Linked DNA regions of Homo sapiens: all the other regions are reported to be linked to region 4. The links are microRNA targets in miRTarBase. Many come from high-throughput screens and were not tested one by one. Region 4 holds a microRNA gene; each other region holds the end of a gene's coding sequence.
The links. Region 4 holds the annotated microRNA hsa-miR-98-5p (UGAGGUAGUAAGUUGUAUUGUU, at 1,604-1,625, opposite strand). A microRNA usually pairs through its seed, bases 2 to 8, with sites in the 3' UTR of a target mRNA and lowers its output. Matches are read on the target gene's strand: a 7mer-m8 pairs with bases 2 to 8, a 7mer-A1 pairs with bases 2 to 7 and ends in A, and an 8mer does both.

Region 1: the mRNA of MRPS2 is a reported target of hsa-miR-98-5p. The part of its 3' UTR that is shown has no 7-base or 8-base seed match.
Region 2: the mRNA of BRI3BP is a reported target of hsa-miR-98-5p. Seed matches in the 3' UTR shown: 8mer at 2,480-2,487.
Region 3: the mRNA of ARIH1 is a reported target of hsa-miR-98-5p. Seed matches in the 3' UTR shown: 7mer-m8 at 481-487.
Region 5: miRTarBase lists TRAM2 as a target of hsa-miR-98-5p. Seed matches in the 3' UTR shown: 7mer-A1 at 259-265.
Region 6: miRTarBase lists TEAD4 as a target of hsa-miR-98-5p. The part of its 3' UTR that is shown has no 7-base or 8-base seed match.

The regions. Positions count from the first base shown.
Region 1 is chr9:135,503,298-135,508,464 of GRCh38, forward strand. MRPS2 (mitochondrial ribosomal protein S2) reads left to right here. Exons shown (of 4, transcript NM_016034.5): 4 at 245-1,374. The coding sequence ends at 836. LOC101928525 (a long non-coding RNA gene) reads right to left here and starts at 3,150. Exons shown (of 3, transcript NR_121579.1): 1 at 2,547-3,150; 2 at 939-1,022; 3 at 1-404. RefSeq lists a silencer at 886-1,040 and an enhancer at 2,069-3,042.
Region 2 is chr12:125,025,118-125,030,284 of GRCh38, reverse strand. BRI3BP (BRI3 binding protein) reads right to left here. Exons shown (of 3, transcript NM_080626.6): 3 at 1-5,167. The coding sequence ends at 4,855. THRIL (TNF and HNRNPL related immunoregulatory long non-coding RNA) reads left to right here and starts at 2,862. Exons shown (of 1, transcript NR_110375.1): 1 at 2,862-4,842.
Region 3 is chr15:72,582,551-72,587,717 of GRCh38, reverse strand. It overlaps ARIH1 (ariadne RBR E3 ubiquitin protein ligase 1), which reads right to left. Exons shown (of 14, transcript NM_005744.5): 14 at 1-4,510. The coding sequence ends at 4,426. It overlaps MIR630 (microRNA 630), which reads right to left and starts at 501; the gene lies at 405-501.
Region 4 is chrX:53,554,696-53,559,695 of GRCh38, forward strand. MIR98 (microRNA 98) reads right to left here and starts at 1,646; the gene lies at 1,528-1,646. HUWE1 (HECT, UBA and WWE domain containing E3 ubiquitin protein ligase 1) reads right to left here. Exons shown (of 84, transcript NM_031407.7): 57 at 4,659-4,837; 58 at 4,276-4,365; 59 at 3,960-4,114; 60 at 2,687-2,732; 61 at 1-225. It overlaps MIRLET7F2 (microRNA let-7f-2), which reads right to left and starts at 2,579; the gene lies at 2,497-2,579.
Region 5 is chr6:52,498,532-52,503,698 of GRCh38, forward strand. TRAM2 (translocation associated membrane protein 2) reads right to left here. Exons shown (of 11, transcript NM_012288.4): 11 at 1-4,739. The coding sequence ends at 4,666. Among named protein-coding and RNA genes, the nearest start is that of TRAM2, 76 kb to the right of the region's middle. RefSeq lists an enhancer at 568-617.
Region 6 is chr12:3,040,043-3,045,176 of GRCh38, forward strand. It overlaps TEAD4 (TEA domain transcription factor 4), which reads left to right. Exons shown (of 13, transcript NM_003213.4): 12 at 65-217; 13 at 323-634. The coding sequence ends at 436. Among named protein-coding and RNA genes, the nearest start is that of TSPAN9, 35 kb to the right of the region's middle.

The DNA of each region.
Region 1 (5,167 bases), not on the chromosome of region 4:
CTTCGGGAAGAGGTAGAGGGTAGGAGGGGTTAAGCCACGAGACGAGGCATGCAGAGGGGTGGCCTGGATGGGTCTGCACTGCTGTCCATGCACACGGGGAGCGTTGCAAATTGTGCTTCCCAGCCCATAGTGCCCCCACAGAGGAGCCCGGGAGTCCCTGGTGGGCGTCTGTGTTCCTGCAAGGAGCCAGTGGAGATGGCCCCGTGAACTCTCATCCCCCTTGCCTTGGTGGGGTCTCTGGCAGGTTTATGGAGCCGTACATCTTTGGGAGCCGCCTGGACCACGACATCATCGACCTGGAACAGACAGCCACGCACCTCCAGCTGGCCTTGAACTTCACCGCCCACATGGCCTACCGCAAGGGCATCATCTTGTTTATAAGCCGCAACCGGCAGTTCTCGTACCTGATTGAGAACATGGCCCGTGACTGTGGCGAGTACGCCCACACTCGCTACTTCAGGGGCGGCATGCTGACCAACGCGCGCCTCCTCTTTGGCCCCACGGTCCGCCTGCCGGACCTCATCATCTTCCTGCACACGCTCAACAACATCTTTGAGCCACACGTGGCCGTGAGAGACGCAGCCAAGATGAACATCCCCACAGTGGGCATCGTGGACACCAACTGCAACCCCTGCCTCATCACCTACCCTGTACCCGGCAATGACGACTCTCCGCTGGCTGTGCACCTCTACTGCAGGCTCTTCCAGACGGCCATCACCCGGGCCAAGGAGAAGCGGCAGCAGGTTGAGGCTCTCTATCGCCTGCAGGGCCAGAAGGAGCCCGGGGACCAGGGGCCAGCCCACCCTCCTGGGGCTGACATGAGCCATTCCCTGTGATGTTCACTCTCCTCCCAAAGCAAACCACAGCCAAGCCTGTCTGAGCTGGGAGTCCCCTTCCCCAGCCCTGGGTCAGCGGCATCCTCAGTCGTTGTTACTTACTCAGCTGATGTCACAGTGCAGACATCCACCGTTCCACCACAGAACCAGTGGCTGAGCGGACCAACGTTGCCATGTGCGTTTGCTCTGTGGGGAACAGAGCACAGAGGGTGAGCGACATGTGCAGAACGGCCCCTTGGCTGCAGTTAGGACCTCAGTGGCTGGTATGGCCAAGCTGCTAGAAGATGCTGCTGTCCCTGTGATCCCAGCAGCCCTCCCTTCACCGTGACCCCTGACCTTTGTCAGGAAGGTGCAGTTTTTCTTCTCAATCTAAATGCCTTTCAGGTGGGCCGCTTCCTTGGCTACCTGGTTCCAGGGGGCTGTTTTGTAATGAGATGCTGCTGGCAGGCCACTCAGAGGCTCCCAGCTGGGTTGGTGGGACAGCCAGGCCAGATGACCTGATTCCAGCAAAAATAAAACTCAGATTTGGGCAAAATGAGACTTGGAGTTTGGGGCTCTGTCTCGAGTGGGTTTGCTTTCATCCATGTGGTGTGGTTTTTCTTCAGGCACACACTGGGACCCCAGTGATGAGAGATGGGACGGGCACTGTGTGTGTGAGGCGCATGAATGAGGTCAGCAGAGGTGCCAGCTGCCACTAGAGGGCACCGTCTTCAGCAGTGGAGCTCGTGACAAGCCCACAGCCCGGCCAGCCTCATTCAGCAGAACAGGCTTGGTGTGGACCCAGTTTCAGGAAAGACGGGCACTTGCTGACAGGGACGCTTAACATCCCTCACCTGTGGGGATACAGCTGTGTTCCTGGAACAAGCTGCGGCCTCCTCCCAGCCCCATCCCGAGCTGCTTAGGACATAGGCCCCCCATGCACCTGACCACCCAAGGAGCCGTCTCTGGGCAGAGTCTGGGCAGCAGGGCCCTGTGGAGTCTGGTGCCCTGGGTAGGGTGAGGCCTGCCCTGCAGGAGCGGCACAGGGCAATGGGAGGCTGGAGTCCAGCGCCTATCCCTGTCCCTTCAGGGTTAGGCTGGTGAGGGGTTCATGGTAGGTGTCCCCAGGTTTGTCACAGGTTTGTGATCTGGTCGGGACAGGGAGCTGAGCTTCAGGTTGGTCTCTGGCCAGCATGGCTTTAATTTGCAAAGCCGAAGTCTGAAGATGCACGTGTATAAAGGCAGGTGAAGTGAGGGCCCCTCCAAGGCTCCCCCTAGAATCCCTCTCAGGGTGGGCAGGTGAGACACTCTGAGCTGGGTCTCCTGTCCCACCATGCTGGGGAGGCCAGCTGCGGGGAGCCAGGACCCTGGAGATGAGACAGGAGTACCAAACACTGGGGACTGACTGGGGGGCTTCCAGGAGGTGCCCCTGGAGCTGCGACTGATCCTTCCCTGGGAGAGGCCTTTGTAGCTTGGGTCCAGGCCTGGCCCTTCTCTGCTAAGCCATTAGTGAGGACGTTGCAGGCAGCTCCAGGGGTTGGACCTCAGGAGACACAGTGGGGCACAAGCCTACAGGAGGGACGGGGCGGTCTCTTCTGGGGTCATTAATTTTGAGGCCGGGTGGAGGGGAGCAGCCCAGGCAGAGCTGTGGCTAACCCAAGGCGCCTTGTAAGAATGGTGGGGGCTGGCAGGCCCGGGCAGGCTCCCTGGGTCCCGACCGGTCCCCCTTACCTTGCGCTGATGGCCTGCGTGGCTCCTGTTGTCCTCCCACTGGCCCCTGCACCTGGCACAGGCCGGCGAGGACCCGCTGAGGAGCTACGAGTGGGCGCTTGCTGGGCTTCCAGGGCAGGAGGGGCCCTGGCCGAGGGGATGACCCAGTGGATAAGCAGGCACTAGTGACCATGAGGAGCAGGGAGGGACGGGAAGGGTGCAGCGCAGAAGCCGCGGGGGCCATGCTGGGACAGCCAGGGTGGGCCTGAGGGCCCCCTCGGGGAGTGGAAAGAGCCAGCTCCCAGGATTCAGAGGGGCTCTGGGTGAAACAAAGGTTGAGGGCTGAGGGGATGGGGTCTCGCTGACCCCATCCTTGACTCTGCCAGGAGGGGCCCTCCAAGTTTTCCACCCTGGAGATGAACCCCAAGAGCCCCCAGAAGAGGCCAACGGAGATGATGAGAGTGCCTGAGGCTGGGGAAGGGCAAGGGAGCTGCCCCAGGAGTGGGGAGAGGGGCCCCCCGGCCCTTTCCTCCTGTGGCCACAATGCCTGCAGGCCCCATTAGAGGTGGCCTTCTCTGGACTGTGGCAAGGCTGTGCCTGGACCAGCTGGTGTCCCAGATGGTGGGGAAGACCAGAGGCAGCCACCAGAGGATGGGCCTGGCAGAGCTGGCTCAGGGCAGGGTGGGGTGGGGAGGGCCAAGGAGCCTTTCCAGCCCTGCCGAGGCTGGGCCACTCCCACTCCTGAGGCCCGGAAGATCCCTATTTGCCTGGAGGAGCTCAGGGCAGCCCTGAGGTCAGCACAGGCCAGGCTTCCGCTCTGATCCCCCGCAACCCTCCCTGGGTGTGTGGGGGGAGGGGACAAGAGGGGAGAGCCTGCCCTGGGCAAGAGCAGGGTGTTGGGGCAGGAGCCTAGCGGCCCATGAGGATTGAGGCCAGCTGGGCCAGCTACTGATGTGGGCCCTCTGCTGATGTGGGCCCTCTGCTGATGTGGGCCCTCTGCTGATGTGGGCCTCTGCTGATGTGGGCCCCAGCCCTTGAGATGGATCTCATGTCATCCTGGCTGGAGGTCTACACAGACACGGCTCTGTGCCTGATCCGGAGAGCAGAAGGTCAGGTGGGCAGAAGTGACAAGGGCCGGGCCGGGCTCTGATGTTCCTAGGTCGCTGTCTCTGCAGAGCTCCACGCAGGAGACTGGCCAAGGGGGCGACCCCCACTCTCTCCCCAAGTGAGGGACAGGGACTCCTCGACACCAACAAGGGCCAGTGCTGGCTGGGGGTGCAAGTGTGCAGGGGAGGTCTCCACAACCAGGGCCCCTGGATGGCTGGGAAGGCCTCCTGCCCAGATGTCACCAGGTGGCTCCCAGGGTCCTGCTAGAGTTCTGCCTCTCCAGCAGCCCCCAAGTCCCAATCCCAGCACCCTAGGCCTCCTCCCGCCCTCACCCCACCACCGTCCAGCCCCAGCTTGGCCAGGTGCAAAGTGACTTTTCATATTCCTATAGGAAGGAATAGCCCAGAAATTCTTCCTGAACTTCTCCAATTCACATGATGGCGATGAGCGACTGCATTTTGTTCATGTTCATATGTTTGGGCCGTCCTCCCTTTGGCTCACCCCAGAGTGAAAATGAGTCAGCCCTGTTCCTGGATGAGACCTGCAGGGTGGGAGTCCCCACGCAGGCTGCACAGAGAAGCTAGAGCGTCACCTGGGGGCAGAGCAGCGACCGTTCCTCGTTCCTGCTTTCCTGGGCACGTGTGGAAGCTTTGCCCCCACCCCACAGATGCTGGACCTGCTGTTCCACAGGCGAGCGTGTCCCGCTCCACCGCACAGGGGCTCCTCGCTCCCACACCCACCAACTGTGGGTCTTGGCAATGCCCCTTCACCCCTCTGAGCCTCGGTTGGTTTGTGTGAGAACTGGGAGCTAAGGGGACCTCGTGAGGCTGCTGTCAAGCCTGGGTGGGACGGGCCGTGGAAAGCGCTCTGCTCACGCCTGGCCCTGGGGAATGGGCTGCCCGGGCTGTAGTGTTCTTATTTATGATTTTCCTCTCCCCTCCATGGGGAAGCTGTCTGCCCTAGGCCTCACTTGTATGTGCAAAGCAGTTTTCCCACCTGTAGAGAACATTCCAGATTCCATGTGGGAGGTTCCCATCCTAGGTATAGCAGAGCAGGACCCTCTGGGGAGGGCTGAAGAGCCCAAGGGCCACTCAGATATCTGGGAAGGAGCTGGTTGGGGCTCATTCAATCAACAAACATGAAGCTGCCCTCCCGGACCTCCCTGAACCCACAACAGCGTGTACGCACTGATTAAACAGTGTGGAAATAAGGAACAGAATGTGGAGAGGCACAGAGGCAAATGTTTAGGACGACTTTTGTTCTATTGAAAGTGTTTAAAGCCCGGATTTTCTTGAAAGATTTCCATGATTTAGCACAAGGAAAATCTTACAGATGAGGACACTCGTATCCAGAAGGTGGAGACATCTGCTCCAGTCACAGCCAGTGTGGAACCTTGGCAGAGTTTGGGTCTCTGAAAGCAGACAGGGATTCGGGGACATGTTGTTTGCTGCAGCTGATCCCAGGAAGCCTGAGGGAGGACCTGGGAAGGTAGGCCTGGAGGTGGGAAGCCGGTGAGTGGCCTTGAGCAAACCCTG
Region 2 (5,167 bases), not on the chromosome of region 4:
GACCCCTTAGGAGCCTCAGGAATTCCTTTTAATGCAAGATAGATGGCAAGAGCTGGCTTTTTGGTTAAGTCAGCCAGTTCGGAAACCCATCAGGGAGAAGTTATCAGGTGTCAACTTGTAAGGCAGATGACATTCATCAAAAGCATCTTAAGAAGTAGCAGTGATCACAGAAAGGAAGCAATTCAGGATTTCCACTAGCAACAAATTGCATTAACCATGTCTAGGCCATTTGACAGCTGTTATTCTTAACGCTCCATAAGCCTGAATCACAGGGCCAGATGAGCGACTAAGCTGCTCACATCCTCTCTACAAGGCAGCCCTCCCGGGCATGCACAAAGTCATATTATAGTCTTCCTAATCACTGACCCAAACCTTTGCGTTCTTACTCAGCTCCCCAGAGGGGACCACCCCACTTGGTTACCACCATCACAGTCATAAAGACATAGTCCCAGTTCCCTGACATCGCTGCCTCCCGACTCCTGCATGAGACAGGCTCTCATTTCTGGGGTAAGTGTATGAAACACCTTTCAACGGCATTCACTTACCCTTTGTGAATTAAGACACAGGCACGATTCACAAGGTCTGCTTCCCAGAAATTCTATTGCTGTGCTCTGTTACCAGAAATGATATGGGGGCTGAAATCCAAAGCAAAAGAAACCAAAGGGCGGGTAATGCCGACTGGTATTGGAAAGTGTGTGTGTGTGTATATATATATACATATATATACACACACACACACTTTTTTTTTTTTTTGAGACTGGGTCTCACTCTGTCGCCTCAACTGGAGTACAGTGGTGTGATCTCAGTTCACTGCAACCTCTGCCTCCCAGGTTCATACAATTCTCCCACCTCAGCCTCCTGAGTAGCTGGGACTACAGGAACCCACCACCACACCTGGCTATTTTTTTTTTTTTTTTTTTTTTTGTATTTTTTGGTAGAGACGGGATTTCACTATGTTGGCCAGGCTGGTCTCGAACTCCCGACCGCAAGTGATCCACCCGCCTTGGCCTCCCAAAGTGCTGGGATTACAAGCTTGAGCCACTGCACCCAGCCTGGAAAGTATATTTATGAAAGGTTTGCACTCCACAAAAGCATCTTTGCTAGGGTGTCAAGGAAGAGATCACTAAACCAACCCCAACACATCCATACAATTCCAGCAATCTAGAGAGGGCTGGTCCTTTTCCTTTTCTGGATTATTTTCTGTTCTCAGTAAAACAAGTATTTACTGTGATACTGAAACACTGGGAAATTAACACTGATTAAGATATTTTAAACACTGAGTCTTAATTATAACAGAACCAGTTTTCATCAGAATGCTTTTACGTCACATTCAGTGAAGTGTTACGCTAATATATTCTACAGCCCTGAAGATAGAAAAAAGGTTTCTCTCCAGGTATGAGATATGGTACAAAAATACATTTTTCCACATACAAAAGAGAGAAAAAAACAAAGACATGTGGCGGGTGGCGAGGGGAGGCCCAATCCCAACACCCTACAAGGTTCCATGGAATGGAGAAGGAACAAAAAAATCCCCAATTATTTTGGGGTAAGATGTGCCCCAGAAAAGGTGAAATCTATGCAATAAAACCCAGGTTTTCTTCAAATCTAGCATCTAGGATTTCTATCAGAGTTTCAAATAATCAGAATTTCTATCAGAATTTCTACCCTGAGGTGACACCTACTAACTGTAGGTTCTTTCATTAAAAATGAAGACATCTTTCACCAGAATGTATCAAGCTATAAAACTGGCTTCAGAGCCTACACTTAGCCAGAGTGGAAAAAAAAAATAGTGCATATTTTCGACAGCAATTTTGAATTGATGCTTGAGGTCTCAATCCACCAGCACCCAGATATCATGTTACCTCCCTCAGTTGAATACAAGTTAAAATGATGATCTTATCGAGATCTCAATAGAGCACAGTGCCCTTCATGTTTCGGGTAAGAGGGTGGGAGGAGGAATGAAGCGGGTATTACACCCAGCCCAGTGACAGCTTAAGCCTTAACATGCGGGCATCTTACAATGACCATAAACAAGGGAGGGGCCAAGGCAGGGCTGGCGATCATTAGCTTTGCGCACAGAATGCCATGTTTTCCCCTGGCCAACATAAGCAAAGCTGTTTTAGTACCTAAACGTGGTATAGCCAAATGCACAAAAGGAAAGAAGATAGAGATGACCTCCCGAGTTATTTATACCTTGTGCTAAAATAGATTCATCTACAAGTATCTAAATGACAAAACTAGAATGATTTCAACCCAGTAATCCTGTGTTCCAATGTGCATGGATAAAGATTTGATCTAGGCCCAGCGCGGTGGCTCACGCCTGTAATCCCAGCACTTTGGGAGGCCGAGGCGGGCGGATCACGAGGTCAGGAGATCGAGACCATCCTGGCTAACACGGTGAAACCCCGTCTCTACTAAAAATATAAAAAATTAGCCGGGCATGATGGTGGGCGCCTGTAGTCCCGGCTACTTGGGAGGCTGAGGTAGGAGAATGGCGTGAACCCAGGAGGCGGAGCTTGCAGTGAGCCGAGATGGTGCCACTGCACTCCAGCCTGGTTGACAGTGAGACTCCATCTCAAAAAAAAAAAGATTCGATCCAGCAAATAATTTTTTTTGAGACGGAGTCTCACTCTGTTGCTGAGGCTAGAGTGTGGTGGTATGATCTCAGCTGACTGCAACCTCCGCCTCCCATGTTCAAGCGATTCTCCAGCCTCAGCCTCCCAAGTAGCTGGGATCACAGGCGCCCACCACCAGGCCTGGCTAATTTTTGTATTTTTAGTAGAGACGGGGTTTCACTCTGTTGGCCGGGCTGGTCTCAAACTCCTGACCTCAGGTGATCCACCTGCCTTGGCCTCCCAAAGTGTTGGGATTATAGGGGTGAGCCACCCTGCCCAGCCTGCTCCAGCAAATCTTAAATATCCATGCACACTGAATAAACATGCACCTGAAACAGGTGCACGTTTCAGGAAGTGAATGGAACTCTCCAGGAGAGTTTGGGTCCCATCATGTGTACCTTAGAAACAGAAGTCTCAAAAGTCTCAACAACATCCACAAAAACATCTGCATCTGTTTTCCAGATACTTGCAACCAAAAATAAAACTTCACAGGAACACTACACAAGAAGTGGTAGACAGCTAAATCTTCTCCAAACTGAGACCTGGACCATAAGGTCTTGGTTGTAGCAGGTCTGGCAGGGGTTATCTATAAACCTGCACGCAGGGCACTGTGAGCGGGTTGCCAGGGTACATCTGTGGCCAGGTAAGGGCCACAGAGACAGTCGTGATCCCCAGCAGCTTCAAAGCTGCAAAATGCTGGGCTTTTTTTTTTTTTTTTAAGATGAAGTCTTGCTCTGTTGCCTAGGCTGGAGTGCAGTGGCGTGATCTCGGCTCACCGCAACCTCCACCTCCCAGGTTCAAGCAATTCTCCTGCCTCAGCCTCCTGAGTAGCTGGACTACAGGCACCCACCACCATGCCTGACTAATTTTTGTATTTTTAGTAGAGACGGGGGTTTCACCATGTTGGCCAGGCTGGTCTTGAACTCCTGACCTCAGGTGATCCATACTCCTCGGCCTCCCAAAGCGCTGGGATTACAGGCATCAGCCACTGCGCCTGGCCTAGGGCTTTCTTTTTTAAAAAACAAGTCCTAACAAAAGGGGGTTTCTACCAGCCCCTGAGCCACACCTTCTGAAACTCCCTTGCCCAGGATCCCCACAGCTGTCCACCTCGCAAGTCCCACTCTCTGCCCACAGAGACTGCCTAAAAGGAGGACACAACAGATTTCAGATAAAAAGCACCTGTGTATCGTAAATATTTCAGGAAAAAGAATTCAGATCTTTTCAAAGGCTTGCTTATTGCTGCTAATTGTTCCTGAGGATCTTTCTAAGCAGCAATATACTTGAGAATATTAGCTGCTACTGTTTGTTTTCCCTCTAAGGTCCTGAGGAAATCAAAAGAAAAAAAAAAAAACCCTCAAGGGTATAGCTTTTGTATATAGCCCTAGTGAGCAAACTGCAAATTGGGACATGCAGTAGATTCTGGAGCAATCTCCAATCCTTACCAGGTACTTCCTGGCATCAAATCCCCAGGACATTTCTTGGCCCCTCCTTGCATTTTCCGTTTCAAAATGTTGAGGTTAAAATACATCGAAGCACAGAGGGAAGAAAATCTCAGGTCTTCTAGAAATGGCGATGTCTTCATTTAAAAATAGGACTGATGGGGGCTTGGCAGGGGTCTCTAGGATCCAAAAGAGGTTGAGTTGCATCCTGCAGCCCAACTGTCCACATTTAGAAGTGACAACATTCATGAACTAAGTCAACATCCACCAAAAATAACATGAAATAAAGCTCACAGTTTGGGAACATGAAAATAACGCACACAGACCTCACCCACCAATCCCTAAGCTGTGAAAACAAACGCTCGCATTTAAACTTTTCTCAAATGTCAAATTAGCATATTCTTCCCCTCCATGTAAAGTTTTAATAAACTTGACTCAATCTGCCTTTATTAAAAAACCTTACAAAAGATGTATTTAAATGCTTGAAAAAATTAACTTTATGCTCTATGCACAGATAAATTTCTCTTACTGTACAACTAAATATGGTTATATCCTTTGTTTAAAAAATATTTTTTCCCCCACTAATTACACTTCGTGTGTAGTTCCACGTCAATGATCTTTCCGCTCTTCTGGGAATGTGTCCTAAGAGCTGCCGGGTGGGTGGAAATAGCCCTACACAGCGCCACTTTCTTGCTCAGTCGTGTTTATTAAGATTGTTTGGGGTTTGGGGTTTTTTTCCTCCGTTTTCGTTTTCTGAGACAGCGTGCTGGTAACTGTGGACCCGCCCGGCCGGCTGACCTTCACTTGTCCTTGGAGCGGTCCAGGCTCTCGAGCACCCGGTTGAGACGGATGTTGAGCAGTCTGACCTGCTTCTCCAGGTGCTCCAGCTTCTCCTCCACGCTGGGGTTGCTGGGGTTGCTGGGGCCGCTGGGACTGCTTCGCCAGTAGAAGCCCATGGGCCCGGTCATGAAGTAGACGGCCACCACGAAGCACAGCGGCAGCACCGCGTTCTCCGGCTCGCCCTCGTACTTGTGCAGGATGTACACGCAGGACATGGAAAACAGGACGACCCGCACGATCCAGAAGAAGCGGCCGAACACCACGTGCAGGACG
Region 3 (5,167 bases), not on the chromosome of region 4:
AAACCAGATATAACCAACTTTATCCCCAAAGATATATGAAAAATCTGAGGGGCCCACTTATCTTCCTGTTTCTGAAGGAGCCAAAATTTTCTCATAAAACTCACTGCTTATCATCTTTTTAAAGCCTCAAAGGCTGAGATCCAATGGATATGGGATGTTCTGTGCATCCTGTAACAATTTCCTGCAGACTATCCAAAATTCTTTACAATGGAAATTCATTTGAATAACTAAACCAACAACTGCAAATTACTTGGGTACTATTAAGCAAATCATACTAAACCACTTATTCTCAACTACTGTGTTGCAAACTGCAACAAATGAAAGATCAGAGATAGTATAGAGCAACCTCTAACAGTAGCAGTGATAGGCATTTATAATAGTCTTTAATGTGGTTTAAAAGTACAATATAGTTAAGAACTACCTTCCCTGGTACAGAATACTAGGTCATTCTGTGACCAGAATAACAAAATATGATACAAAGAGGTAGCATGATGTTAAGTTTCAGGTAGAAGGAAATGAAAAATTGAGGGAGTTATTTAACCTCAGTGAGCCTTATCTTCCTCCTTTATAAAAAATGGCAATTTCTTCTCCACTTGTTTTAGACAGTAAGTTGAAGTGCTTTGAAGAGGAAAAGTGATAAACTCCCATAATTACAGATCCAAATAAGAGTAAATTAAATTGTCCTAAAACCTGGACTTGGCCAGAGTATCAATGACAAACGATCTTCAACTTTGGGACCTTCTTTAAGAAAACTCTCCCTTCATCCCTATATAACAGTATCAGCTTTAAGAGTGAGCTAAAATGAAAGTAATGTAAAGGAGTTTTGAGGTTAGCTAAGAATGACTTTTAAAGTATTTTCTTTAAAAAAAGTGGCATTCAAAGAGCTATTGAACATTTTTGTATCACTGTTACAACACAAACAATTTAAATTCAATATCTGAGATGCAGAAATTGGAAATCTTTCAGAAAATGCTCTGAAAGCTTCATTAACCAAGTTAAATGTTGGGGGAATGGGCTCATTCACAGTTCCCTGCAAAGAAACAACCAATTTTTGACATTTTATATTAAGTGGGAACAGTGAATAAGGCACATAATACGGGTGGCTATTAGCCACCTTTAGTCATTTTTTAACTATAAAAATAAACATAAGTAACTAATGGAATAACAAAATAAAAGTTTATTTTATTAGAATTAGGAATGTTCTTTCCCTCTGGGCAACCTGAACAGTCCAGTTACAATGAAATCTAAGAACAGTTATTTCCACAGCATAGGGTGCTCTATGCACAAAATTACAGGGTTAGGAGCATTTAATCAATTTACCATTCTGATTGTCTCACCAACCCACCCCATCCCATCCCCCAAGTGCTCTATTACCGGGGTTTGTAGCTAAAATAATTTGTTACATTAACTCCTTTTCCCTCTTCTACTAAATTTCAGTTCCTAATCATGGTTGAACCACTTTATTACACAGCAGATTCAACCATTTCAAATGAAGTCAGCCAGTCTTGGATCTGTTGTATATGGGTGTATGTATACACGTGTATCTAACATATTTATTTAAACACACATAAAACACATACAATCTGGGTTGTGGAAAATTACAGATAATTTAGTCTGATATTATATGCTACTCAATTTTACCACTGTGGTTTGTGTCCTGAGCTTTGGATCAAAATTTTATTTTAAATCACTGAAAGTCCATCTGCTGCTGAATGAATTGTTCAAATGAAGCATGCACTTTTCAAAAGACAATGAAACTGACCTCAAGACATGGAGACCTTGGTGCTTACTGTGAATAGATCCCTCAGATAAGACTTCTGTAGGTGAAACAGGGAAGCTGTCATGGCTTGCCTATCCCAGCTGGGGGCACTGAATCTACTAATAACACAAGCAATTCACTCTGGGAATTCTGTCAAATATGGTGGTATCTGTTAAAAGCTTGGAAGTAGAAAAGGGCCAGTTCATCTTGATCATACAAATTAGGGAATGCACCCACAACTGCAATACCCTCAGGCAGTATGCCAACATTGAAATAGAAAGCATCTCTAAAAAGCACTGTTCCTCCATGGGTGAAGACTGGTATTAGGAAGTGCACACACAATTTTTGGGTATTTGTTGCAACAGGAACACGTGGATTTATGACACTCAAACCTAGACACTGCAAAGTTAACTGGTAAGATTTTTTTTTTTTAAACACCACACATACACAAAGCATTTTAAAGGAGCCACATATATCTATATAGCAACTCTGACTGCTTTTCAAAGTTACCAGGGAAAGGAACTTATTCAGGCTTTCTTTAAAAAAACTCCTTAGTTTTAATGTATATCTTTTTAAGATTGATGCTGTCATTTGAAGTAAAATAATGTCATATGGATAATGGGGGAAGAGGGGAGAGAGACGAGAAAATGGAAGAAGCAGACACTGAGTTCAGATTTGCACCTGAGGTGGCAAGGGAGGAAAGGAGAAAAGGTACAGGTAAAGTTGATCCTAAAGCGACAAGTGGTTTAAGGAAGCAGCATTTATACTCAGCAAACATTCACTGATTTTTGATGGGAAAAGAACAGTTGCCAGTAAATCTCCTGTAACAACCTTTTCTAAAAGGAAAAGTAGGGTTGATTCAGCAAAGCCTAACTTAGGCAAAAGGCCAGAGGAAAGTGAACCTACTTCCCAATGGAGTAATAGGATGTACAGTGTAAGAGCAGACAAAGCTGCCTCACAAATGGTAAACACTCCCTAGGCAAAAGACATTTAAAGGAAGACGAAGAGGTCCTCAGCCTCAACTGGTATTTCATATTTAGACCTCTTAATCTAGTTGCCTAGTTCACTCTGCACTCCTGTATAAAACTGACAGATTTACAGATGCTGACCTATTGAAAAATACCACAGCCAGAATGGCCTAAACAGGTATATAGTTAATACAACCACCACCATCCTTTACTTTTAACATAGCTCTTAGTAGGAATTTCATAAAAATGGACATCACAGCTAAAATGCATTATTAATTCTCCTATCTGCTGACAATAAAAAAGCAGCAAACTCAGTGATTTCTATTTAAATGCACTAGATGGGAATATCATGTTCTAGGGGTGTTTGCCTTCAAACCAAACCCACAGCAACACACACAAGCAATTTCGGTATCCACCATTTTAAATTCACAATCTGAGACTAAATGAATGGCTATTTATATTTAAAGCAAAACATTCTCTTTGACACCCTAATGTAGAGAAGGGGTGAGCAGACGAGCCATAACTAAAATCTGAAAAGCAGCAATTAAGGGAAAACCAAAAAGTAAAAGAAATTTTAAAATGCTTCCACTGGATGCGACAGGGGACTTAAGAATGCCTACAGCTGTGTGCATAACATGGGCACACAAAGGCTTGGGTAGAGGCATGATGCCATGGAGGGGGATTAGGTTGGGACAGGTTAATTCATGAGCTGTAGCAACAAAACTCCCTGCTGTACCCCTTAATCAGGTCATGGCATTAGTCAGAGCTTGACCTCCCTTGTCCCTGATCAAGAGCAGGAATTCAAGGCATGAGGCCCATGGCCGGCAACAGACATACCAACACCAGAAAGGGCAAAATAACCTCAGGAAAGTGAAAGAGCTCTAGATAGGTCTTCCAGAGGTGCTAAACCGACACACCTTTATCCCAACCCCAACCCGGGAAAGATAAGCAAACTGAAAGAAAATGCACAGCAAATAGACATAATCTTGAAGATTTTTAAAGAATAAATATTTTTTTGTAATTAAACATTATGCAAACACGTGCCACGCTTGCTTTGTCCATGCATATGCGCTATATACAATTTTGAAAAATACTGTGTTGTCCTCTTGTTTTAAAAGTCATATACAAAGTTTTTATGTTTTTCGTTTGTTGAATCCTCTTGCTGCCTACCCCTTTCCCCATCCCAAGATTTTCTTTACAAGGAACTAAGCATCATTCACTCATGACCTTGGGGTATGAGAGAAAGAGAGTCAGTCTGTGTGTGGGTGTATCTGTATGTGTAGGGGAGGAAGGGGAAGAGGTCCTTTACCAAAGTACAACAAAATGGCTGGTTTGAACATGAAAAGCAGTGTCAAGGAGCTGTTTGAAATTTTAACTGTACTACACTCAGGAAAAGGAAAAAGAAAAAAAAGGAGTCAGCTTTGAGAATGAAGCTACGTTACAAGTTAAAGTTGGAGGGCTTTTAGTGTGTCTGTCACACTTTTGTTGGTGGCCTAGAATACTGTTGTACAATGGTTTATCTACCTTTTTATTACAATATAATTTACTTAAACTTTCCATTAACAAAACAATTCTGGTACTACAGACCAGTGGTGTCAGAATAGGCTTAGTGCCTCCTTGTTTGTGTTTGTTTTGTTTTAATTGCATGAGCACTCTAGATGGTAAAGTTTTCAGAGTTCATTTTATGCAGGGCCATTCTCAGTCCTCAATGTACTCCCACAGATCTTTTTCATAGCCTTCATGCACATGCTGTAACAAAACCCTTCGTCGACTCTCACAGTATCTGTAATCAAAGAGAAAAAAAAAAAAACTTGTTGTCAGCCTCTAATAATAAAAAAAGAGGCATTTACTTATTTTTAAGGCATCCCTATAGTTTATCCAGACTCGGAACCAAGCACCTATTTTTTATTTTAATAGGCACATGTTCAGGTCTAGATGTACAGACACATCAAACTGCTTCTAATATTAAAATGGTATTTTCTGAAAGCCATGATTCCATGGGAATTAATTTTAAAGCAATAAAGTGTTACAAGTTCTGATGGACCTTAGAAATCATAATTCAATCCCACAGTTCTGCAGATAAACAGGTTCAGAAATAATTTCATGGGTTCTTTATTCACGTCCTTAAAATCTCTGTCAACTGTAAAAGTACTGTAAACAAAATATGGTAGCTAAAATTGGCTAAGGGAAGGGAAGATATTGGTTAGGACTAAATCTCCAAGTCTTCCAAACTCCCCAAGTTTCCTACAACTTTCAAAAGACACTAGCATTTGTCACTTTGGGAGAAAGAGCTTCATGTTGAGAAATAAAACATTTTGCATCTCTAGCTTAAGAGGCGGCACATCTTGAAAAATCGACTCCTAGGACAAGTATCTCCTTAGATTAAAAAAATATATATATATATATGTAATAAAAACTCTAAAAAGTAAGTTTCCATAGC
Region 4 (5,000 bases):
GACCCAATTCCTCTGGCTCTACAGGCATCAATAGCTGTGTAGAGCTGCCCCCTTCTCCAGCTGGAGACTGCAGCTCCTGAGGAACCTCTCCCAAAGCTGGTGGGGTTGGGAGTGTTGGTTGCTGTTGTGAGGATTGCAGAGTGCCAAGGGTCTCCTTGGACTCAGATGTAGCTGCATCAGTTGAAGATGGGGTTGTTGGGTAGCTGTCAGGCATAGGCGTCCCATCTTTCTCGGAAAGAACAATAATAGTGGTTAAGGGGCAACCAGCCAATGATGAGGGGAGCCACCCCAATCAGCAAATGTGGCCTGATAAGTATCCCACCCAGCCAGTGATCATCCCCACAACAAAAATACTCCAAGGAACATCTCTGGTCTGGTATACTAAGGATGAAGGTTAAGGCACAGTGCTATCTCTGTCCCAAGAATGCAAGAACTGGAGCTCTGACTCTGTGGATTCTAAGAATAAAATCCTTTCTGTGCCCTGCAGGTGGAAGGGGGAAGATTTCAGGCCATATAGGGTGAGGCTAAATGTCTCTGACCTATAGGTACACAGAAAATCTAACTACCAAAATCCTATTGATCCTCCCACTTCATCTATTTGGAGCAAGAAATGGTCAGAATTTCGTTCAAAACTCTATTTGTTTTTTTTGGAGACAGGGTCTCACTGTTGCCCAGGCTGGAGTGTAGTGGCACAATCATGGCTCACTGCAGCCTTCACCTCCCGGGCTCAGGTGATCTTCCCACCTCAGCCTCCCAAGTAGCTGAGACTATAGGCATGTGCCACCATACCTGACTAATTTTTTGTATATTTAGTAGAGACAGGGTCTTGCCATGTTGCCCAGGCTGGTCTCAAACTCCTAAGCTCTAGCAATCCACCCACCTCGGCCTCCCAAAGTGCTGGGATTACAGGCGTGAGCCACTGCGTCCAGCCCTTCAAAATCTTTTTTTTTTTTTTTTTTTTCCTGAGACAGAGTCTTGCTCTGTTGCCCAGGCTGGAGTGCAGTGGCGTGTTCTCAGCTCACTGAAGCCTCCACTTCCTGGGTTCAAGCAATTCTCCTGCCTCAGCCTCCTGAGTAGCTGGGACCACAGGCGAGTGTCACCAAGCCTGGCTAATTTTTGTATTTTGAGTAGAGGCGGGGTTTCGCCGTGTTGGCCAGGTTGGTCTCGAACTCCTGACCTCAGGTGATCCACCCGCCTCGGCCTCCCAAAAATGCTGGGATTACAGGCATGAACCACTGCGCCTGGCCCAAAATTCTTAAAGTATGCTTTCCATTCCCTTGCACACATTCCTGTTCTATTACTAATAAAATGCAATCATTACACAGTTGAAGAATAGCAAAATGAGTTCATGCCCAAAGGTAAAATAATTATATGCTCCAATTAATGAAAGACAAGTCACTTTATAATGACATCTGCCTCACCCTAAACACCATCTGTCCCCTTCCATGTCTCTTTTCTTCCAGTCCAAATTATCCAAGGAACATCTACAACTTTGTCTGATGGAGGCAACACTGCTAAGACTAAGTGTGAATATGCCACACACCAGGGAAAGTAGTAAGTTGTATAGTTATCTTCTAATTGGGGCCTAATATCCCTACCCCACAACAATACAACTTACTACCTCACCCTGGCATGAGCAGAATCCTCTAATAAGGGCAGCAGGCAAAAGGCCATTTTACATGGTGACAGACTCTTTTAAAGATCTTTTGCTAGATTAAGGGTACCAAGGCATCTACCCTACTTCACTGCTTTAAAAAATATTGTGCAGGCTTTGGTACAATCATTTTCCAACTCAAGTGCGAAAGGAGACAGGTGTAGGGAGGCAGAAGAATGTTCTGAGGAAATATGGGTGGGGGAGACATATGATATCACATGAACCAACTGATAGAATCACAAAATGGCTACTGACCATTGTTAAGAAGATCAGAGGGAATAGGAAACATACGGCAGTCATACCACTAAGCCCAGAGAGCTACCTTCATGAACAGCACACTATCCAAGACAATGTTCCTAGACTTTTAGATTCCATGGACCAATAAAATTTAATTAAAAAAAGAACAAAAAGTAGAGACTAATGTAGGGGTTGCCAACTTTTAGTTTAGCCATGTAAGAAAAAACATCCAATCAACATCATTTAATAAAAATATTTTGGTACCACAGAATTAGGAATATGATCTCTAAATACAAAAACAGCCTTTTAAATGGAATAAATTCAGCTTTATGAAAAAGGCATTAAAGCTCCTTGATTTTGTTCGTTTCCACAGAGGACTGGCATTTGAGAACCACTGTCATCAGTTATTCTCATGAAGTGCCACACCATGGTGGTCATCAAAGGACCAGCCACTTCAAAGATGTACATGAACATGCTGTTTCAGAGGACAGAGTTGCAGTCAGGAAATGAACAAGACACATGACCTCATTACCCATGCCAGAACAAAGTAGATAATAACCAGAACAAGAACCTGAACAGAGCCAGTCGGAGAAGAAGTGTACCACCGTGGGAAAGACAGTAGACTGTATAGTTATCTCCAAGATGGGGTATGACCCTAAAACTATACAATCTACTACCTCATCCCACAGAGCACCAGTGTCCATCTTCAGCCTATGTGGGCCAGCTACTCGGAACTATCAGGATAAAGAAGCAACCAATTGATTAGTAAGAAGGGAGAAAGGGAAGGAGAGTTACCTGAGAGATTCTGTTCAGTGGAGTCATTTGACTTAGATGCAGTACACTGCAAAAAGAAGGGATAGACCAATGTGGGACTTTGCAAGCACCTAAGATAGAGGTCAACTGTAATAGTCACCATCCTCCACCCAGACCATCTAGGAGTTCAGTGATCTAATGGAGAATGCTTTGGCCATGTGACCAAAGGAAGGTGATCATTTCACTGTGCAAATATATGACCAATTTCTCTATACATACTCAGGTTCAAGAATTGTTTGGGGCTGAGGGGGAAATAAATATGGAAGGAAAGGATAATAAAAACCCCTTAGGGATGGGCACGATCATGATCATTCTAGCAAGAATTTCTTGGTTTCATCTATGTATTTTTTCCCTTCATGGGGCTTATTTTTTATTTTGTCCACTCTAGTCTTTTCAGTCACAGGCTAGGTTCACTTATTTTTCATCCTATATCAAGTTTGAAACAATGTGTGTATTAGGTAAAAAGTTCTATATAAAGATATTTGTTAGATCAACCTTGTTATTTTAACTGAACACTTCACTACCCTTATTTTTAATCTACCTGATTCCTTAACTGCTGAGTAGGGTATACTAAAGTCTTTCACTCTCAAGTCTTATTTCTTTGTATTTCTATCAGTTTTTCCCCCTTTTATATCAAGTGATACACTGTAATGTATAATTCTATCAACATTTACTCAGACATTTAAAAGATCTCTGTCTGAGGTCCCAGAAGTTTCAGAAAAAAGTAGGTAACTTCCTTCTAAACCAAAATTGTATTAGTGATTTTATACATGTGAGCCCTAGAAAAAATGACATGTGGTGATGGGGTTCAGAGTACAAACATTTTCTCTGATCTGACACCTAGGCTGATCTTACTCAAATGACGGAATGGGGTCATCTCGGTAAGATTCCCCACACTGGCAGTTCACCGACAGAAATGGAAGTGGGCGACTAAGAGCATGGACTTAGATAAGGTTTTTCTCCTTGTCTTGATGCTGTCCTTGGCGGTAGAGACTATGCAGTGTGACTGTTGAGTGAGAAGCCATTCTGCTTCTGGCTCCAGTTTTTCCCTTGACACTTGAGAAATCTCCCCTCTAGGTTTGAATTCTTTCCCCTAAAAACCAGGTCAATGTATGGTGAATTTGAAATAAAAAATTTCCCAGGTTCAACGTGAACGTTCTAGGATTCTTCAGTGATTCCTGGTGCCATGTGTATGCCAAAACCACATTACGGCAGACACAGTCAAAGATGAATCCTCCCAGCCCTTGGGAATCACCTGTGCACTCTGATCCCTGTTCTCCTTATCTTCTTTGCCTTTATCAGTTATCTTTGTTTCTTCCTCAGCCAGTTGTTTCCTGCGCTTCTCTCGCCTTTCTTCCAGCTCCTCATCCCTCAGGAATTCCAGGTGATTGACAATGGACACTTTAACCACTGTTTCAAAGAGGCAAAAATCAAAGGCTGCTCTGGTGGGGTCAGGGAGGAAGCCAAGAGGCAGAGCTTGTAGCCACAGAGAACCAGGGAAACAACTCTCCACACGTTTGCCCTAGCTCTGGAAGGCTCACTATTGCCCTGATAACCAAGCTGCCACGCACCTGAAACACAGTCATGCATGCTCTCAGCATCGAGAACTTTGCATTCTTCTGTCCAGCGGGTCAGGGCTGTGGGGATGCTGGACAGGGTTCCTGTAGGGACAGCAAAGGGGAATGAGATTCTTGGCCTTGTCAAGCATTAACTGATCCACCGATCCAAAAATTGCAGTATTTCCCTAAAAGGACCCAAGGTCTATCACAATGTTTAGAACATAACAAGTACCTAGAGACAATAAAGTTTTTGTTGCCCATGGCTAAGTCACTGAGTGGTTCTGGCTCCTATAAAATGGGGGTTTTCTATAGGGCAGACACTGTCTTGCTTTTCCTCAGCAGGGAAAAAGTAGAATCTGACAAATTCTACCCTCCCTTTCACCACACAAACTTGCCTGCTTGGCTGGTAGCTGTGCTCTGATCATGGAAAAAGTCATCCAGCAGCTCATCATCAGAACGGGCGATGATGTGGACGTCATCGTTGCCTACCAGGAGGCGGGCCCGACCCCGGCTTTGTAGGGGAAGGCTGCTGCTCAGCTGAAGGATGTCAGCAGCAGCTGAGGGACCAAGCAACCTGTAGGGTAATGGTGGGTACCATGATCACTGTTAAGTCCAGAGGTGCCCTGCAACCTGTTACCATGAGATCCTCTTCATGCATCCTCTATTAAATGCAGAACATGATTATAAACCTGATGATGTGCACACAAGTCTAAGTTATTTTTCTGAATACCACCCTG
Region 5 (5,167 bases), not on the chromosome of region 4:
AGGAGTTTGCTATGTGGGGCCAGAGGAGAGTTTTCGAAGTGGGGGCTGGAAGCTCTGGGCTTCTCTTAATAGGTATGCTTGTGGTTGGGCCACCTCACAGACTTCCACAGCCACCCAGCTGGGCCAGAAGAGAACTGACACAAGGGAGAAACCAAAAACAAAACAGAACACACCACAGACCCTAATCCTGGGCAGCGGGGTTAGAAACAAATGGGGTGAAACTGTCACAATCCGTGTCCCTTTTATATATAACTATACTGAGGTATGGTGTCCTTGGCTGCCGTCGAGCCCTGGCAACTGGGGGCTGGCCACGGAGTACAAGTTGAAAACCACACAGCAAAGTAAGGCACTTATTCTCACACACAGGCGCACGCACGCAATCTGCTTGGGACAAAAAGTCTACAGGGGTTGCCAAGCACGAAAGGCTACATGGAGACTGCAAATCCCAATGCTCGTCTTTATAGCTCTGCCACTCCAGGGAACTCCATAAAAGAATGAGGCAGCTTTCACTGGGGAGAACTGGTCTTCAGCCTTTGCAAGGTGGAGCTAACACTCATGTGAGTAGTGGGGTAGAGTGAGAAGTTGGTAAAGTCTTCCTCACTGGGACAACCTTGAGCTGGAGAGAGATCCTATTTAGGTTTTCCAGTCATCTGACAATGACCTAATCCTCCAATAATCCTGAAAATCCTCTCCTGAGAAAAGGAACCATAAGCTCGGAAGGCAGAGTGAGGGAGGAAGAGCACTCCATTGTCTTGACTCAAAAGCTTTCAGCACTCCCTCTGTTAGAGGAGAGAGCTTAGAACATCAAGAATTGAAGTTTGTGCACTTGTGCCATAGGCCCTTAAGCAAAAGAATTAGTTATGTGCAGACTTCCCTACCTCTCACACCAGGCCTAGAAAAACCAACTAGGAAGGCTGAAGCATACAAAGGAAACCCAAGCGAAGGCCTTTTCTAGGCACAAGGGGGTCGGCAACCCACTTCCAATTAAAGCATCCATGGAAGATAAGAATTTTGTTGTGGAATCCTGGGAGGAGATGCACTCTTTCACCCAACCTCTTATTAGCTGCTTAGAAAAAAGAAGGGGTACTGACAAAGGAGGTCCCAAAAGAGACCCCAGAAGCACACACCCACCCCAAGCTTCAGGGGTTCTTAGGGTCCCAGGGTTTCCGGTCAAGAGAAGGATCTGTGAACGTGGCCAGGGCAGAGGTGTCTATTGGGGTTTCTTAAATGTTGGGAAGTTATGCCTTGGGACATGAACAGACAAGTTTCTCAGCAACCATTTCGGTCTGGTGGCCCAGACACACATGGGATTAGAACTGACTCAAAAGGGAGGACAGCAGATCCCCCGCCGGCTCAGCCTGCTCCCCTCTCACCCAGAACCATCCCCTACCTTCAAAAGGAACACATGCAATTTATTAATAGTGCAGCTATCAGCGCCCGGATGGTAAAAATAACTCCCATCATCACTGCACCTCCAAGGAGGGGAGCGGGTAGCACAGATCCTTGGTCCACCAGCGCCACCTCCCTCTCCTCCTGCTGTGTCTGTTGGCTTCCCCACAAATGTAAGTTAGTTAGCCAGGGCTGTCGAGAGGCCACAGTTGCTGGGGTAGGTTTACGTCTTTTCTCCTGCTCTTGGTGCATGGTGCTGAGCTCTCAAGCTTGGAGGTGTCTGGCAGAGCCTTCACAAATGGCTTGGCACTTTGGGGCAGGAGAGAATGCATAAAACTGAAGAAAACAGCCAAAGTGGCCAAAATTAGAACAAGCTAGCCCAACACGCTCATAGGATGAAGTGGAATTATTTCAGCTCTGGCAACACAGTCTGTGTCAACCTGCCACAGACTTGGCTCTGCTGTGAAATAAACGTGCCAGGGAGGGTGGCAGGGGGAGGGGGGTGACAAAGTACCCTACAACTACCCTCTAACCACCCCCCCCAAACATCCCTGAAGCCCAGGCTGGCAAGATGCCAGCCCCACTCATGGTCTCAGGGTTTTTTTTTGTTTTTTTTTTTTTTTTTACATAAAATAAACCCTTAGCACACCCGTCCACTGGGAAGCAGAGCCTAAGCTGACCCCGGCCACTGGGCTGGTGGGACCACATCCAAGGCATGAAGTACTGGCAGCACGGGGAGCTTGCAAGAGACAGGGACATGAAGTTGTGGCGTCTCTGGCACGCAAGTGTCCTGGGACAGAGCAATGGAAACCTACAGGCATGAGAATGAGGGTTGCTTGATGGCAAGATTTCAGCTGCTCTGCTCACACTACCTCTCCAGCAACTGGCACAACGCAGGCACCTGGCACATCCCAGCATGCCATACATATCTGTTGAAGCCACAACTCAACAGTTTAACCTGGACTCACCTGAGAGAGGCCTCCTGCATGTGAAGCCCTGCCAATGACACAGCCTGGAGAGCACCTAGGATGGGTGTTCTCTAATGGGGGAGGAAGGTGGGCTTAGGAGGCTGCTGGCTGAACATGCGATTTGCAGTTATTAGGCAAGGTGGGGGGCCTGAACTCAATTATAGACTCTGTCAGGGCTGTTTGACTAAAGTGGCTAAGGGATCCCATATCAGGTCTGCTGTGTTGAAACCAAACTGCCCTTTTACCAACGTTTCTGCTGTGCAGCCCAGAGAAGTGTCAGGGAAGGAGAGGGAGAAATGGGGGAAATACATATTTTCAAAAACACTGTCTCACTTCCTAAGGGTAATCAAAAGCAACCACGGGTAGCTCTTCCCATTTCTGCAACCTTATCGTAGAGAGGGATGAAGGCCTCCAATGGCGTTAGGAAACAAATCCCTCAGTTACTGGGAAGCTAAAATTTATCTATGATGTAAGTGACTTGGAGAAGGGGAGTTGCCTTGATGAAAAGACCCATTTCCCCCCTTTTGAATCTAAATCCAAGGTTTGGTTTCTACTGTGATGTCAGAAAGATGACCAGTATTCCAAATGACACTACTATTCCTGCACCTACCAAGAACTACTCCCCTTTGCCTCAAAACAGAGTTCGGAGGTTCTTAATTGGGACTTTTGTTTTTTTAGACAGAATTTCGCTCTTGTTGTCCAGGCTGGAGTGCCATGGTACAATCTCCGCTCACTGCAACCTCCGCCTTCTAGGTTCAAGCGATTCTCCTGCCTCAGCCTCCCGAGTAGCTGGGATTACAGGTGCCTGCCACTACACCTAATTTTTTGTATTTTTAGTAGAGATGGGGTTTCACCATGTTGGCCAGGCTGGTCTTGAACTCCTAACCTCAGGTGATCTGCCCACCTCGACCTCCCAAAGTGCTGGGATAACAGGCGTAAGCTACTGCGTCCGGCCGTAATTAGGACCGGCTTTTTAAAGCTGAACGCCCCTTCTAAAAGTCCTCACAAGGCACCAAAAGGACTTGGAGGCCTTCTCTTCAGGTGGAGGGGAGGGGAAAGAATCTGTGAGGGAAGGGGCCAGAAAGGCGCCTATCATCTACCCAGAGAGTGACTCTCAGTCAGTCATGGTTTCATGCAGTCTAAAATGCTGTAGTTGTGCTCAAAAAACGACAATTCCAAAGAACACTCAACAAGGGCGGCCAGATGAACAGCGGTCCAAGTGACCCTCCCTGAACACCAAGGGACCAGCATGGGGCTGAAGCCCTTGAGACTTAGTGTTTCTGCAGCTAGAGATGAAGTCAAGGTAGTAAGTTTGGCCCCTGACGGGGCTGGCTGGCTCTGGAGGTGAGGACCAGCCTATCTCAGGCAGGTATATGAACTGCTGTTTGGTTTGGTTTTGAATGCTTGTGAATGGCTGAAAAAGCAATGGCGACTGGGACTGCTGGAGAAAGGCCTAGGTCGACTCCACTGTGGGTTCTGCCACCATTACCTTTCTGGAGGTGCCTGCTGCGCAGTTTGCTCTGCTCTCGCTCTAAGCAGTGGGAAGACGTGTCCCCCCCCACAGAGCGACAGCAGGCTGGCTTCCAATCCGCGGCCAGCCACTGGTAGGAGCTCGAGTCACGGGACCCAACCGAGTTCACACCATCCTTCTGGATTGAGTTGTCACGTCCCAAAGCCAAATGCCTTGGCATTTACAACGAGCAGTGGCTGCTGTGCCTCAAGATGGTACATGCAGAACTGGAATCATATATCTCGTCAGTTAATCAGCACCAAGGAGATTATGATCCGAGATGGCCGCTCTCTTCTTGCCCATCCACATGAGGACCACCAAGGGCCTACCAGCCCCAGGCTTCTGACCGGCAGGCCCTGGGGGACCGAAGGACAGGACTGCAATCTTAGCTCCCCTCCCATTGTAAAAATCAGACAGAAAAATTGCAAGATAAGGTGAAAATAGGAAGTAAAAAGGAAAAGCAGCAGCCATAAGGCAAGAGACAGAGCAAGCAGAAAGGTGCCAGCCATGGGCGCCTGGCGTTCCAGAAAAGCCAGCACAGGACAGGAGTGAGGACAGGAGGTGGCCTGAGGGGGAGAAAGAGAAAGATTTTTGGCTTTATTGAGAATGGTTTGTGGAAGAATAAGAGGAAGCCAAGAAGAAGGAAAGCGAAACGCCCCCTCCCCCCATTGCAAGACAGGTTTCGGCTGTTTGAGACGGAGCATCACAGGCAGGAAGGAGGAGGCAGGGAGGGGGCCTGGGCTCCTTGCCCCCTGCTCGGCCCCCACCAAGAGGATTCCTGTTCTTAGCACTTTGGCCTTAGGGAGACTTGAGTTTCTTAGTCCGTGGGGAGGTTCCGTTCTCTGCCTTCACCACTCCATTTTCATGGTAACCTGGGAAGTGGAGAGAGACAAGCATACATGGTGTTTCTGCTGGAGCTAAGGCAGAAGAGGGGAGGGTGGGGCCAGGCCAAGGAAGGGGCCCGGGCAGCCCAGCTGCTATACATGGATGCACCAAAGGGGCGCCAGGCTGCAGCCTTGCACAGCAAATGCAAGCCAGCAGACGGCTCCCAGGAGGGTCCTGTCTTCCCCAGGGCCCTGGACTAGTGGCCCTGTTTGAGAGGCTTGGTCTCTGACTGCACTTTAGCAGGAGGGGCCTGGGATGACACACAGTAACTCAGCAACAACAGAGGCCAGCCTGCCCAAGCCTGAGGCTGGGGCTAGATACTCGCCGAAATCACTTAGATGCTGTCACTGCTCACTGTCCTCAGTTCTTCTCAGGCCCCTGCAAGGCATCAGCCCACTTCCAGTTCAGCAAGAAC
Region 6 (5,134 bases), not on the chromosome of region 4:
TTGGGTCTGGGCTGGAGGTGGTCAGAATGGGATTCTAAGCCCCTGCTCTCCCCGGGTCCTGCAGACAGAGTATGCTCGCTATGAGAATGGACACTACTCTTACCGCATCCACCGGTCCCCGCTCTGTGAGTACATGATCAACTTCATCCACAAGCTCAAGCACCTCCCTGAGAAGTACATGATGAACAGCGTGCTGGAGAACTTCACCATCCTGCAGGTGTGCGGCGGGTGCTGCGGGTGTGGCTGGAGTCTGTGTGTGGGTAGCAGCCATGGCATGCCCCTTCTGGGGCCTTATTAACCCTTGTCTTTTTCTCTCCCACAGGTGGTCACCAACAGAGACACACAGGAGACCTTGCTGTGCATTGCCTATGTCTTTGAGGTGTCAGCCAGTGAGCACGGGGCTCAGCACCACATCTACAGGCTGGTGAAAGAATGAGAGACTCGGGGAGCAGGGAGGGGGGAAGAGACGTGTGTGCAGGAAACGGGGACGTGGGGAGGGGACCTGCAGGGGCAGCCCCCTGAAGTGCCAAGAGAGCTGAGAGGAGCAGTTGTGACTCTACCCAGGAACAAACTGTGCCTGAACCTGAGGTGCCCAACCCCAAATAAACCCAAGATGCTGTGTATTTTCAGAGGACCTGGTCTGGCTGTGTGAGCCTCGGGAGGGACTGGGGGAGCAAGGGGGCCGTCTGGGAGGCAGGCCGGAAGCAGTGCTCAGAGACGTACCCCGGGCAGTTCTGAAGCCAGCGTCCCAATGGACTCAGCCAGGAACATCGCCGGACCCTGGAACTGAAGATGTGACAGTCCCTGTGCTACCTCTCAAGCCCCTGCACTGTGGTGCTGGCCACGCCGTGAGGCCCGATGAATGCATGGGCCACGCACCCACAGCCACGTGCGCCCCTGCTGCACTCCCAGGACGGTTCACACAGAGAGGCCCCATCCCCTGGGGGGTGGGTTTTAGGTGTGGCGGTGACAGTTGTTGGACGGGGACACTGTCAGAACTCTCTGGATAGTTTCCGTCCATCTCAATGGATGTGGATTCCATGACCATCTTCCGTGACCACGTTGGGGGCACTGGTTTCAAATCAAAGGACCCTGAAGCGGGGAGGGCAGGAGGCGGCAGGGCTGAGGCCGGCCTGAGGAGTCTCGGCGGGAGGTTGGGTGCACCAGTGTCCTCTTGGCTGTGGCCAGGAGGTTGATGAGAGGTCTCTGGTGCTCCGCTGGTCCCCGAGAGCCATTGGTGCTTGTGAGGCTTGTTCAAACTCTGTCCCAGCCAGGGTGCCTGTTAGGTGGAGGCCTCCTCAGAGCCAGCCTGCACCATCTAACTTCTTCCCTGAGGGGTAGTTTCTGTGCTCCCCGGGGGTGGAGGAGGGGAGTGGACCCCACCCTGAGCCTAGACTTAGATATGCAGCTGAAGGGGTTCCTGGGTTTATTTCTCCTGAGAACTGGCATGGGCTCTGAGTTTTGCCATTCCTGGCTTCGGTCCTAGCATTCTAAGCTGCCTGACCTTGGGCATTTGTCAACCTGTCTGAACCTTAGTATCCTTTCCTCTCTGTAGAGTGGGAAGAGATGGAGTCTGTGAAGCGCCTGGTGCAAGCTGTACTAATACACCTAACAATGAGCTCCTCCCTCCCTGCCTCCTTGCCTCCCTGCCTCCCTCCCTCCCATGGGGAGGCCAGAATCTGGCTGCTTGCTGCCACCTAGTGGCTCTTTGGGGTCATCTTCCCTCATAGGAACCACAGATCCAGTAGCCTAGAGCAGAAAGGGAAGGAAGATTCAACCTAGGGGTGTTTATGTTTACCGTGTGTCTGGCACTCGTGGAGATAGTGCATGGGACTACATAAGTAAGACAGCATCGAAGAGGTGTCTTGGAGTGTGGTTAGGAGCGAGGGCTCTGGAGTCAGACAAGCTACAGACTAGCTGAGTGACCTTGGGGCAAGTTATTTCATTTCACTGTGCCTCAGTTTCCCCATCTGTAAAATTTGTATAACGATAACCTACCTCGCGTATCTACAGTGCCTAGCATAGTGCCCCACATAAATGTGTTCACTAAATGTACGTCGTTATTAATCATAGGAGCTTGCAGTCTCACTAGGGCCGACTGGAAAACTATTAAGTGATCCTCAAAGCCACAGGCGCTCAGAGACTGGAGAGATCAAGGTGCAGAAGACTCAGGGAAGGGTAGTCTTGAGGGCAGCTGCCCTTAAAGGGTGGGCAGCATTTAGTGAAGCAGATGGAGGGAAGTTGACCGGCATCCCAGATGTGGGGAAGAGGCCAGCAGCCTAGTCTCCTCCACGGCCCAGCCCCCACTGTCTTACCAAAGAACAGCTTTAACCAAACCCCTCTGGGCATCAGGACCACCGCTACACCTCTTGCCAGGCTGCAGAGCTATGCAGTCTGGAGGCCCAGCTCTCGTCAGAAGCTGGGGCATGGGCTCTAGGGGAACCTGGGGTCGGATGAGCCCCTGAGCAGGTGGCAGGTGCCTACATGTCCCAGTGTGGGTTCGTGTTTGTGTAAGGCTCTCCTGCCCCCACCCCCAGGCACCAGCACAGCCTTTGCCTTCACTCTCTCCCCTCCCCTGTCCCTGGGGGATTGAATAAGGGAAGCTGGGGTTGGCCGTCCTTCTAGCTTGATTGGCAGCACCAGCGCTGTGACGGAAGGATGTGTTGTGCCAGCAGCCTCTTGGCCGCAGGACAAATGCACATTTAAAGAGATAACCTTTTTGTGTCCTGGCTGGGAAAGAGGTCAGTGCAGATGTTTTTGGGTCCAGGTGTTGGCTGTGAGTTTTCCTTTCCTCTATGAACTGACCTCAGCAGCCTAGTGGACAGTCACCTCCTTACAGGTGTAAAATCCAAGCCAGTCAACCATAGCAGGTGGCAGACTTAGCTGCCTTCCCTGTGGTGTGGTGCAGACCATGACCCTTGAGGCAAATGGGTGAGCTGGCCCCACCTCGCCTGCAGCCTCCTCTGAGGCTCCCCTGCTGCCTCCCCACTAGCCGCCCTGAATCACCTACTTCCCAGCACCCCCAGCCCGTGGTTCTCATCCCGTCTTCCATCTGTGATCTGGCACTCATTCTTCCAGAGCCAAAGAGGAATCCCCTCTTCTCATGCAGAAGACAGTCATGCCTGCCCTTGTGTGTCAAAAGCATTGCATTTATGCCCTGTTAGAACCCCTGTCACAAGCATGGTGCCTGAACACAGGTGCCTCTGTGGTCTCTTCTCATCCTCACCCAATGGGTACTATGCTAGCCCCATTTTACAGATGAGGCAAACGTGGCACGGAGAGCTCCACTAACTTGCCTGGATGATTCATGCATCCATCCATTCACTTAGCAAATACTTATTTAACTTCTGCTTTGTGCTAGCTAGTGGGGATGTGGCAGTGGGGATGTGGCAGTGGGGATGTGGCAGTGGGGATGTGGCAGTGGGAATGTGGCAGTGGGGATGTGGCAGTGAGGAAGACGACAGACAGGCTCCTTGGGAAGCAGAGTAAGCAAGTGAGGAGACAGGCGGGCGTGGTGAGGCTGCGCAGGCGCTGAGATCGAGTTGCTGGGGGAGGCCTCTCTGAGGTGGTGGGGCTTGAGTTGATTCTGAAGGACAAGAAGAGCCAGCCCTGGGGGTCTGGGGGAATGGTATTCCAAGTGGAGGGAACAGCAGGTGCTGGGGGCAGGGAGGTGACAGATGTGTCCCAGGTACAGAGAACAGAGTGAACAGGAGAGAGGAGGGGGCCAGGGCATTCCAGGTGGGGAAAGGCAGCAGGTGGCCCGGTGGTACCACCTCTTTTGGCGAGGGCTTTGGACCTTACCCGGTGTGATGGGAAGTCCTGGAAGTGTGTTAAGCAGGGGAGTCTTTTTGATCAGATTTTCTAGAAAACGACAGTGGGCTGCTGTGGACCTCAGAGAGGCATGTGTGATAGTGTGTTTCGGGCTCTTCCCACGAAACTCGGCTCTGCACAGTGAGACCTCATTTCCTGGTTCTGTTTGATGAGTGAGCGAATGCACATGGCAGGCGGTCATGTCCCTTGGGCCTGTGAGGTGAGGAAGGGTCCCTGAGCCCTGTGGGGATAGAGACTCTTCCACCATTCTGACATGATCCGAGTTAGCAGGCAGCACTGTCCAGATGGAAATGGGGATGGGAGACAGACCATCTCTCTCAGCGGGTCCAGCCATGAGCCAGCAGACTGTTTCCCATTGGCCCCCATCTTTCAGAGTGGGATGATCTTTCTAACAAAGAAACCCACACAGGAATTTGGTGTGTGTGTGCGTGTGTGTATTACCTTTCAGGATGGAAGCCGGTGGGGTGTGGAGCGAGGGGCTGGCATGGTTGGCCTCGCCCAGCTCCTGTACCCTGTGTGTGCCTAGAGCATGCACCTGCTCCCTCTGCTGGGCTGAGACTCAGAGGACACTGGGCAGGTGGTGGGGGGTAGGAGGGTCGTGGCTGTGTTGGGTGGGGCCACATCAGGTGTGTGGCACAGAGGGGGAGGGGGAGGGGGAGTGGCAGTGTGTTCCACCCAGCAGTCCCTGTGTTTGACCTCTTCGTACACTCTCTGTTGTATTAGCTCTCAGAATGAAAACGAGATACTTTTCCCCAATCTATGTACGTTGTTCTTAAGAATGTACACTTGGCCAGGTGCAGTGGCTCACGCCTGTAATCCCAGCACTTTGGGAGGCCAATGTGGGTGGATCACCTGAGGTCAGGAGTTCAAGACCAGCCTGGCCAACATGGCGAAACCCCATCTCTACTAAAAATACAAAAATCACCTGGGTGTGGTGGTGGGCACCTGTAATCCCAGCTACTAGGGAGACTGAGGCAGGAGAATTGCTTGAACCCAGGAGGTGGAGGTTGCAGTGAGCCGAGACCGCGCCACTGCACTCCAGCCTGGGCAACAAGAACGAAACTCTGTCTCCCAAAGAAAAAAAAAAAAAAAAAAGAACTTAAAGTTAAGCCAGGCCAGTGATTGAATTGACCTCTTACAAGTCATGTGATCTTGGACAGACACCCTCTAGGGAACTTCATAATCTCATTTGTGAAATGGGAATAAATGCTCCGACTTGGGACTGCCACTGGGAGGAGGACAGGTCATGGTGTGTGAAGGAGCAGGGCCACCCCTCGCTCACGGCGAGCTCAGGGAATGTGAA